Homo sapiens: one gene and its partners. The protein of the gene in region 2 purifies or fractionates together with the protein of the main gene of each other region. This does not show direct contact. Each region holds a gene or a part of one and is shown on either strand. Other genes may lie near its edges.

Region 1 (3,109 bases), on a different chromosome or scaffold from region 2:
CTCTCTGTCTATGCTGGGTCCCCCTGAACTCCGGTGGGGTGACCCCCTTCCTTCCCTCTCCCTGCTGACCATGACCTTCCCTTTTGTACCTGGTCCACGGAGCTCCCTCTCTGCAGACCTCAGCCTCTCCCTCTGCTGTGGTGCTTCCGAGCCCTTTGCACCTCCCTCTGGCCCCTCACATGCAGCTCAGGGAGCAGCTGCCACACTAGGGCTGGCTGGGGCATCTTCCCTCCTCTCACTGCTCTGCCTGGTTTGCCCCTTGTGTGGTCCTGGGGGACTGAGCTGTGGGTCATGGAGTGCGTGGTTGGGCACCCCAGCCTCCGGCTTCCCTTGGAGAATGTGTGCAGCACCAAGGGGCTGGGAGGTGTTTGTCTGGCTGCACTTTAGGGAAGGAGAGGGCACTTGGTCTATTTGATGGGCTGAACAGGAGGGAGGTGGAATGTATAAACTTTCCCAGGGGAATAAAGGAGTTTGTTCCCTGTGTACGGGCAGGGGCTGGGGAGAAGAATGGGAATCTATGGAGATCAGAGGGGACTTGCTTGGGAAAGGCATTTTGGGGACTCCAAGGCAAATGTCCCCTCACAACTGTAGATCACATCAGTGGAAGGACTTGGGGATGGTCCCCCGAAAGCTTAGCTGTTGCTCTAAAAGTTGGTCAAGGCAAGTGGCCCTGGGGGTTTCCTTCCAGAGAACAGATCAGATTGAGGACCCCAGTAGGCTCCCAGATGGGTCTCTGTGCTTAGGGCTGATGCTTAGTAAAACCACAAGGAGGGCCAAGTTTGATGGCAGCCACCTGTTCTGCATCCTCCTGCACCTCTGCCTGCACCTTTGGGGTATGCTGGGCACTGAGGTCCCCCGTGTCTCGCTGCAGCAAAACTCCAGCTGTAACTGTTTGACGCCCTGTGAATGGAACGCCTGCCACTGAGCTCCCAGGGTGTCTGCACAGGGAACCTTGGACTTGGCGATGGAATTGAATTGTAGGAATCCCTGAGCTAGAAGGGAGTATTCTGGGGAGACAAAAAGTCTTTCCCTCTCCTCTGAAACTGCACGTCACATGTTCACTTGATAAACACCATCTCAGCACCAGCTATGGCTCTGAAGGCAGCCCTGGTCCCTTGCTTCCTTGAAGTTATAGGCAGTGAGCCCCATCCTCTGTCTCTAGACCCTGGCCTGGGAATCTCATGATACCCACAGTTGTGCCCTGGCAGAATCAACACTACCACCCACTTCCCTTCCACCAGCCCCAGCCTCAGGGCAAGAGCTAGGCAGTAGCACTGGAGAGAGGGGTACGGAAACACCAAACACTGGGGCCTGCTGTGCCCTTGAGGGAGCCCTCTTCAAGCCACCTCCCCCTCCAGTCTCAGTCTTTGTGAAGTTGCAGAAGCTGTCTTGAACCCCTTGGCTTGGTCAGGATCTCCGAGAATCAGCTGCAGGGGAAACTATCCCTTGGGCAGAATGTTCCTGGAGGGAGGTGGTTGCTATCAAGGCCAGGCGGGGTTGGCAGGCTAGCCATCCGATACCCCGACCCCATGGCAGTTCCCACCTGGCACCTGACAGCTCTCCCAACTCCCATTCCTGCATTTCCTGTCTGCAGCTGATCTGGCCCTCCCTGGGAGGAGGCTCTCACCCCAGGGCATTTGGAGGGTGGGGAGCCTCCCTCCTCCCTTTGTTCCGATTGCAGAAAAGGAGGGGGTTCCCATGCCAAGGCAGAACTGTCTGGGACAGACGCTGCCCGGATCCCTGCGGCTGCCTGCACTCTGGACCACGAGCTCTGAGAGCAGCAGGTTGAGGGCCGGTGGGCAGCAGCTCGGAGGCTCCGCGAGGTGCAGGAGACGCAGGCATGGCCGGTGAGCTGACTCCTGAGGAGGAGGCCCAGTACAAAAAGGCTTTCTCCGCGGTTGACACGGATGGAAACGGCACCATCAATGCCCAGGAGCTGGGCGCGGCGCTGAAGGCCACGGGCAAGAACCTCTCGGAGGCCCAGCTAAGGAAACTCATCTCCGAGGTTGACAGCGACGGCGACGGCGAAATCAGCTTCCAGGAGTTCCTGACGGCGGCGAAGAAGGCCAGGGCCGGCCTGGAGGACCTGCAGGTCGCCTTCCGCGCCTTCGACCAGGATGGCGACGGCCACATCACCGTGGACGAGCTCAGGCGGGCCATGGCGGGGCTGGGGCAGCCGCTGCCGCAGGAGGAGCTGGACGCCATGATCCGCGAGGCCGACGTGGACCAGGACGGGCGGGTGAACTACGAGGAGTTCGCGAGGATGCTCGCCCAGGAGTGAGGCTCCCCGCCTGTGTCCCCCTGGCTGCGCTCTGAGCCTTCAGGGCCACCGCCCGCTGCTGCTTTTGTGCTGGGACTCTCCGGGGAAACCTGGTCGGTGGATGGGAAACTGCCTCCCCCTGGGAGGAAGGCTTTGCGCTCCGGGGCCTGGATGCGGCGCCCTCGGGCCGCCTGCGAGCCCCTCTCTGCCTCCAGACCTTGGGCAGAAGGAGGCCTCCTTGGGCCTGGTCCCCCTTTGCCCTGCAGTGGAATGAGGGCCCCTCAGCCCCGCATTGATCTAAATAAAGGACTGCCGAGTTCCATGTGTGCTTGGTGTTTGTGGGGCGGCTGCCTCCGAGGGCCCCCACCTGCTTCCAGGGTTCCTTCCAGCCCACCCCTCTCACCTGCGGTGGCAGAACTGCCTGGAGCAGGCCCCAGGGGCAGCTCCTGCCTCCCCTGACGCGGAGCAGAGGGCAGGTGGGCAGAGGATGTGTGAGGATGGTGCTGGGCGGTGTCTGTGGCTCCAGGTTCTGCCTGAGCTGCTGGTGAGGACCTGGGCACGTGTCCCGCACAAACAGGAGCGGGCGCCTCGCATGGACAGACGGAGCCCAGCTGCCAGCCTCTGCACGCAGCCTGCCTCTCTTCGGCTGCAAATAATATACGTGTACGTCTGTGTGTGCATCTGTGTGTGTGTCTGTGTGTCTGTATGCGTGTCTCTGTATGTGTGCATCTGTGTGTAAGTCTCTGTATGTTTGTGTGTCTGTGTGTCCTTGTGTGCATCTGCATGTGTATGTGTGTATCTGTGTGTGTGTCTGAGTGTGTCTCTGTGTCTATGTGTCTGTGTGTGTCC
Region 2 (3,749 bases):
ATCATGAGAACAGCACGGGGGAAATCGCCCTTATAATCCAATCACTTCCCTTCCCCTACATGTGGAGATTACAATTGAAGATGGGATTTGAGTGGGGACACAAGACCTAACCATATCAGGTCCCTATACCCGACTCGTATGCAATATTTTTATCATAAATGTGAATGTGTATTTTTCTAGAAAGAAGATCTTTCGCTTTAAATATGCGTTCAGAGGGGACCATAGCCCTAATAGAGTTAAGGACTACGACTGTGAATGAGAAGAGGGTTAAAGCCAGAACCACTAACATCTAAAGGGCAAGAGAAGAACAGTCAGCAAAGAAGAGGAGTCAGCAAAGGAAGTCAGAACATTAGAACTATGGAAGCAATATCACAACTTTGAGAAGAAAATAGAATTAGATGCCAAAGAACCATGAGGATTGGATAGAATTTGGAGATTAGGAGGTTGCTGAGACGTTTGCTTGAACAATTTCACTGGAAAGTAAAACAATTACAGGTCTTAGTCACAGTGGGCTGAAAAATAAATGAGAGATGAGGAAATTGAAATAGAAAAGGAAGATACAGGGAAAAGTGCAAAAATAGAATGGAAACACAGGCTGGAACTAAATTGTGGAAAGGAAAGTTCAACTTTTTCCAGTGAGTATCACTGTGCATACACATGTTAAGTAAACTAAATCTCAGCATGACTGTCTTTAGTTAAGCCAATTAGGGAGGATAAAATAAGTGCATGTATCTGCAGCAAGGAATGGCTGCTTCACTGACTTCAAATCTACCACTGTGATAACTTGGTCCATTTATATTTTTATTCACTTCTTCCTTCAGGATTTGAGACCAGGCAGGTAACAGGGGTGGGGGGGGGGGGGTGCTGATTATTTAAAAATGAGCTAGTAAGTATGGTCAGATCTCAAAAATTGTTTCTTAATATGGACACACTGCAGACACAAAAAAACCCACCGCACTCTTGGAAAATATGCTATCTTCCATCTGCCCTGCTTTATGTCAACAAGGTATGAGTTATTTGAAACTCTAGAACAGTAGCATTTTCCTTACTGTTTCTAGGTTCAGAAACAAAGGAGAAAAATGAAAACTGCTTTAATGGGTGGCGGACGCACATTAGTTCACTACATTTTCAGTAGTCTCTAATCCAAGGTATCAGAAAACAAGATCAAAACTTTTGTGTGCTTCTCTGTTGCCAGAAACATAAAATAACATCTTGGTAATTATCTGGCTGACAGCAAAACAGGGGTCTGGGAATTCAAATGGAACCCCCAAGAGGCAAAGGAAGAGCGAATTAACATGCAAACTAGCAGCAGGGTGATGTCGCCTGTGCCTTTCACCAGGCCTAGCTGCACTCAAGGAAAGGGGCGCGCCAGCCCCTCCCCAAAGCAGGGACTAGAAGCAGAGGAGAAAAGCCATTGCAGTAAGCAAAAGGCCATAAGTTTTCTTCCATCACCTTCCGACCCAGCCTGTTTTAAGAAAAATCTTACTTAAGCACAACAGAGCTTTATACATGGTTATTTTTTCTCAACGTTTTAAGTGACCGGAACCTCTGATGACAGTAATCGCTCAGCATCCCTCACTCCTGCTCACTTCCTCTTCCTGCACGCCTCGGAGGGGAAACTTTGGGACCTTCCGGCACAACAGCTGAATCACTCGCGGTCTGGGGAAGAGCCCAGGGGGAGGAAACACGCGCCAAGGAACTTTAAATCTCCCTCCACTACTTTCGCCAGGGATGCAGGGACGCAGGATCTGCCCGGAGCGCTGCTACCCACCGTCGCCGCTCGCGACCAAATCCCGACTCCTCGCTCTGCGCCTCTTAGCCGCGTCGCAGCTGCAGTGTCAGCAAGTGCAGCCTCAGCAAGCACAACCGCTACCTAGACGGCAACCTGACAGTTTCAAACTGCAGGGAGGAATTAAGGACCGCCCTGGGCATTGGTCCTTTGTTTCAGCAATCTGCCGTTTGATTGGTCCGAGAGCTGGGGGCGGGGATTTGGGCCGCTGCCGGGAGAAGCCGGAATTACTTTGGAGAGCCCCGCCCCCTGGCTCCGCAGGTTGGTAGGGGGCGGGGTCCTAGGGAGCCCCACCCAGCGCCCGTGGGGATTAAATATTGCGCGTGCTCAGTTCTGTTCAGCGGCTGCAGGCTGCTAAGCGGCTCCGGGAGCTGATTTGGATAGAGGCTGTTGAGCAGGGCTGAAGTTGGCTAATGCCGTGTGCTGTTGGCTTTCAACAATTCCGGTAACCTAGATATGAGTCCTAATGCTTTCGTCTGCATAAGAACAATCCGAAATTCTGGGCCAGGTGTGGTGGTTCATGCCAGTAATCCCGGCACTTTGGGAGGCCGAAGTGGGAGGATCGCTTGAGCCCGGGAGTTCGAGACTAGTCTGGGGAACATAGGGAGACCCTTTCTCTATAAAAAATTAAAAACAAAAAAAAAATCTGCATCATCCACAGATCCCCTGCAACAGAATCACTTGGAGGTGCTTTTTTTTTTTTTGAGATGGAGTCTTGCTCTGCCGTCCAGGCTGGTGTGCAGTGGCACTATCTCGGCTCACTGCAACCTCCGCCTCCCAGGTTCAAGGGATTCTCCTGCCTCAGCCTCCCGAGTAGCTGGGATTACAGACGACCGCCACCACGCCTGGCTAATTTTTGTATTTTTAGTAGAGATGGAGTTTCACCATGTTGGCCAGGCTGGTCTCGAACTCCTGACCTCAGGTGTTCCGCCCACCTCGGCCTCCCAAAGTGCTGGGATTACAGGCGTGAGCCACCACGCCCGGCCGAAGGTGTTGATTCCTTCGGTCATGGACACCGTCAGGAAATCTGAATTTTTAACACACACTGCCAGTGATTCTGATGCAGGAGTCTGCAGACCACCCTTTGAGAAATTGCTAGTCTAGGCTGGGCGCGTTGGCTCACGCCTGTAATCCCAACACTTTGGGAGGACGAGGCAGGCGGATCACCTGCGGTCAGGAGTTCGAGACCAGGCTGGCCAACATGGTGAAACCCCATCTCTACTAAAAATACAAAAATTAGCCGGGTGTGGTGGCTTACGCCTGTAGTCCCAGCTACTCCGAAGGCTGAGGCAGGAGAATCCCTTAAACCCAGGAGGCAGAGGTTGCAGTGAGCCAAGATATCGCCACTGCACTCCTGCCTGGGTGATAGTGAGACTCTGTCTCAAAAAACAAAGAAAAAACCAAAATTGGTAGTCTAGTTTTAACTAATCTCAAACGTGTCAGACTTCAAGATAGAGCCTTCTGGTGAAGTATTGGCCTTAGAATCAGATCATAATTATAATCTAGCTTTACCATCTACTCGCTGTCACCTTGGATAATACTACTCACATACTAAGGTGGTAGGAGATTAAAGGAATTAATATATCTAAAACACCGAACACACAAACATATAGTCTTTCAACTTACATTGGCAACAGATAGGCTAGAGGTATGAGGACCCAGATGGCAAAGGTACCTAAGTAGCCCAGACTGGGGTTCTGCAATCTGAAGAACAGATACTGAGATCTGGGTGAGTTTTCAGGCTCCCTTCTGTTACCTCCAGTATAAGGTTTCTTTTTCTGTAGATAGAAATGACATAACCTGGGTCTCACTTACTTTTATGTTGGCAGAACCAGACTTCTACTTACACAAACAAGTAAGAAGAGCACCAGAAGTTTCTTTGGCATAAATTATGTTTGTTCTCCCCCTTTTTTTTCATGCTTATTATAGAGGACAAGTTCCTATTAATAGCTGCAAATTC
Region 3 (3,749 bases), on a different chromosome or scaffold from region 2:
AGAGCCTCAGGGAGGGAGAGGAGAGCACAGACGTGAGTGACATTAGTGAGTGACGTTAACGGGCAGCAACTGATGAAGGGAGGGAAATGAGGCTGCAAACCAGGCAGGCGAAAAGGTGTGGGTGAGAGAAACCCCATAGTAAAGAGGCTAAAGCTTGGTTTTTCTGAAGAAGCCTGGGGTGACTCCTCCAGCACAGGATCCTAGTGTGTGAGGGCAGCTACTCTTCTCCCTATTTTACGTCTTCAAATCTTTAAACATGGGTATTTTTTTTTTTTTCTGAGACAGAGCTTTGCTCTGTCACCAAGGTTGGAGTGCAGTGGCACGATCTTGGCTTAGTGCTACTTCCACCTCCTAGGTTCAAGCCATTCTTGTGTCTCAGCCTCCCGAGTAGCTGGGATTATAGGCATGCACCACCACGCTGGCTTTTTTTTTTTTTTTGTATTTTTAGTAGAGATGGGGTTTCGCCATGTTGGCCAGGCTGGTCTTGAACTCCTGGCCTCAAGTGATCCACCTGCCTCGGCCTCCCAAAGTGCTGGGAGTACAGGCATGAGCCACCACGCCTGGCCTGAACATGGGTTTTTTTTAAACTGGAGGCAACTCTTCTGTTAAGGAGCACAAAGCTCTCAAATTTTGGCCCTAGCTCTCACTAGCCAGGTGGCCTGTGTCTGTCGTATCCCTTCTGACCACCTCTCCTTTGCTGTGAGAAGAGGCCATGGCTCCTGGCCCTTGGGGCTGTGTGAGGATTAACTGAGGGATGTGCAAAACGCCCAGCACCTGGCAGGTGTCATGAAGGGTCTGACACACAGGAGTCTGGGCCACGAGCCCAAGTCCCACGAGTGGGGTGTGAGGAGGCCCACCAAGCCCCTCCCCACTGTCCCTCCTGGCTCCTGGGACCCTGACTCACCTGGAGTAGATGCCGGTTCTATACATCATGAAGTCCTGAGTCACCTCAAAGGCAAAGCTCACAGGGTTGTAGAGGGCCACAGCCTCCACCATCGCTTCCTCGTCATACTGTGGAAACAGGACCGAGACAGAAACACATGGCCTGTCACCTCCCCACTCCTTTCACAGTACAGCCTTTTGCCTCAAGCTAGGGGCTAGAGGCCCAGAGCAGCATGGATGGCCAGAAGCAGCTCCCCTGCGGCCTCTCTCCCTTCCTGTCTCTGGCTGGGTCTGTCTGGCCATCTCTCGTTCCTCTCCCCAACTCTGCTCCTAGGAAACCCTGCACCCTCTGAGATAGGGACCACGGGGTACAGCGTGGACCTACTCATTCAGTCATTCACATCCATTCCCTGAGGTCCTCTCCTGGGCCAGCAGCTCTCACCCCTACACCCATAAACCCAGAGTCTACAAAGCTTTGCTGCTAGAACACAGGGGTTATAAACCATGGACGGGTAGGTCCCAGATGGCGGTGGAAACGAGAAGACCCATCCGAGGGCTGTGTGACTTCTGAGTAGAACCTGTCCCCTCCAAGGGGGAAGGTAGGTGGGGGGAAGTCAGGGTGGCTTCCTGGAGGCTGCAGCTTTGGAACAGAGCTGCAGAGACCAGGTGACAGCAGCAGGTAGAACCCCATGCAGAACCTTAAAAAAACCCCAAGTCCAGGCTGTGCCTCAGACCAACTACAACAGTATCTGCAGGGTGGGTCCCAGGCATTGGCACTTTTTGGAGCTTCTGGGTTGGGGGTGGCTGGGTTCAAGTGCACTAACCAAGAGACCTCTGGGAGCTGAAATGAGGGGGGAAGTTACCTGTGCTGAGGCCAGGGCCCTACTGAAGGAAAGCAAGTGCAGGAGGGACGGGGCGCCCAGCCTCCCTCAGTCCTGCCTCCCTAGAGGGGTGGACAGAGACCCAGCTGTGAAAAGCAAACAGGTGCCTGGCAAGGGAGTGCCCTCCTTCCTGGTATGTGGACAAGGCCTTGTGAGCCCAACAGGTCAGGGCATATCTGAGACATGGAGGGCACAGAGGCCAGCCCAGCACAGGGGCGATGACTTCTGCAGGTGGCACCATTTCCACCCCATGGGCCTGCCCAAGAGGGCTGAATGCTAGTTCTGGCCTGGTCGTCAGGGCCCTGCAGGTGTCACCAATGAGGCTCTCCTGGGGACCATGCAAAGGGATACCTTTGAGGCCCAAATTCACCTGTCCTTGGGATATCATGGCCCAGAGCAGCCAGCTTGAGTGACAGCAGCAACATTCTGAAGAGGGTGACATCCTGAGTACAGGATTTGCGCTGTATGTTGTCAAGGCAATGAGCCCTGGTTCTGGAATGACACATTCTTAGTTCAAATCCAGCATCTATTTCCTAGCTCTGTGGCCTTGGGCACATTACTTAACCACTTGGAGCCCCCGTTTCCTCACCTGTCAAATGAGGTAATAAGGATACTCATCTCCTAGGGCCAGTTCGGGTCTAGAGGGGATAGTGCGTATTGAGGGTTGGTACAGCACCTAGAAGTACTCCATCAAGTTAAGATGTTATTGCTGAGAGCTTGGCACATGCTTCAACTAAATGGCAGCCGCTGTCATTACACAGACATCACGTTTGTGAACTGTACATACATTCGTGGGCGCACACACAACCTAAGCGATATTCCTCCACTCCTCACACACCCTCCCACACTTGCATGCATGCACACTGCAGTCACGAAGGCGTTCATTCACGTTCCAGTTCTCTCTGGGAGAAGCAGGGTAAGACCACACTTCCCTATTCACTTGAGGTCAACTGTGACTGGGCGGCTTGTTTTGGCTTTAGAGCTAGGGCATCATTTACCACCTTCTTTCCCTCTAGTCCTGGCGTGAGGCCAATGACACGGAGCACACACCACCCTCCCTAAGCTGTGCATGGGCGCAGGAGTGCCACACACCCTTTGACTGTTGTCAGCCATGCAGATTGGGCACGGTTGTTATTGCAACAGAACCTGGCTCATCCTGAGTGACACACACTCACCCTCCTCAGTTTCACACACGCTGTGTCAAGCACGTGCTCATACCCTCTTCTGCAGGATGCGGACAATTGCTTGCATTTTACAAGCAAGAAAACAGAACCAAAAGAATGAAGGCATGTGTGGATCTGGAGTTCAGAACCAGAGGGCCTGCCTGCCAGTTTGCGCTCTCCCTCCCATCTCCTGCCTCGCCACCATCACAGCGACTGAGACCCAGGGATAATATGAACTCGTCAAAGGGATGTGCTGCCAGAAGGGCTGCCTTGCTGGGCCCACTGGCTATCCGACAGCATGAGAGAGGCCTCCTCATCAGGACACATTCCCCATCCCAGAGGGGGATCGGCACTCACGATTGTGATGTTGGCTACATCCTTGACAAAGCCGATGGCCTTTCCAGGTTGGAACTTGCAATAACCATCCTGTTGAGGATGCAAAGGGCATGAAATACAGGTTATGGACCCGAAGTCTCAGCCTCCCCACGCAGTTCAATAACATTTACTAAACAAAACAAGATGTGCCAGGGCCTGGGGGATGGGATAATTTCAGAGAGAATTAAAGCATCCTTGTCCTCAAGGAGCTTAGGGTCTGGTAGCAGATGGTCCTGTGCTGGCTTTGGCAGAGGTGGGCACACATGGTGTGTGGTGGGAGCCTGAGGAGGGGCCTCACCCGGCCTGAGGAAACTCACTGAGAAGTGGAGGCCGAGTCAGAGCCTGTGAGGCAGGGGAGTGGGGACAGTCTCAGCCCAAAAAACAATGCTGGCAAGAGGCAGGTGCAGGGGTAAGGTCACAAGGAGGGAAGCGCAGCCCTTTCAAGGCA

What was found.
Region 1: the proteins of POC5 (region 2) and CALML5 purify together in Homo sapiens (co-immunoprecipitation; 3 studies listed by BioGRID and IntAct, with this or other methods). This does not show direct contact.
Region 3: the proteins of POC5 (region 2) and CTSH purify together in Homo sapiens (affinity purification with mass spectrometry; 2 studies listed by BioGRID and IntAct, with this or other methods). This does not show direct contact.

What each region holds. Positions count from the first base shown.
Region 1 is NC_000010.11:5,498,170-5,501,278, reverse strand, and holds CALML5 (calmodulin-like protein 5), read left to right. Parts: upstream 1-1,708; 5' UTR 1,709-1,840; coding exon 1,841-2,281; 3' UTR 2,282-2,582; downstream 2,583-3,109. UniProt on the Homo sapiens protein: Binds calcium. May be involved in terminal differentiation of keratinocytes.
Region 2 is NC_000005.10:75,715,535-75,719,283, forward strand, and holds the start of POC5 (centrosomal protein POC5), read right to left. Parts: upstream 1,904-3,749; 5' UTR 1,772-1,903; intron 1-1,771. UniProt on the Homo sapiens protein: Essential for the assembly of the distal half of centrioles, required for centriole elongation. Acts as a negative regulator of centriole elongation.
Region 3 is NC_000015.10:78,924,430-78,928,178, forward strand, and holds part of CTSH (pro-cathepsin H isoform a preproprotein), read right to left. Parts: intron 3,353-3,749; coding exon 3,284-3,352; intron 1,012-3,283; coding exon 905-1,011; intron 1-904. UniProt on the Homo sapiens protein: Important for the overall degradation of proteins in lysosomes.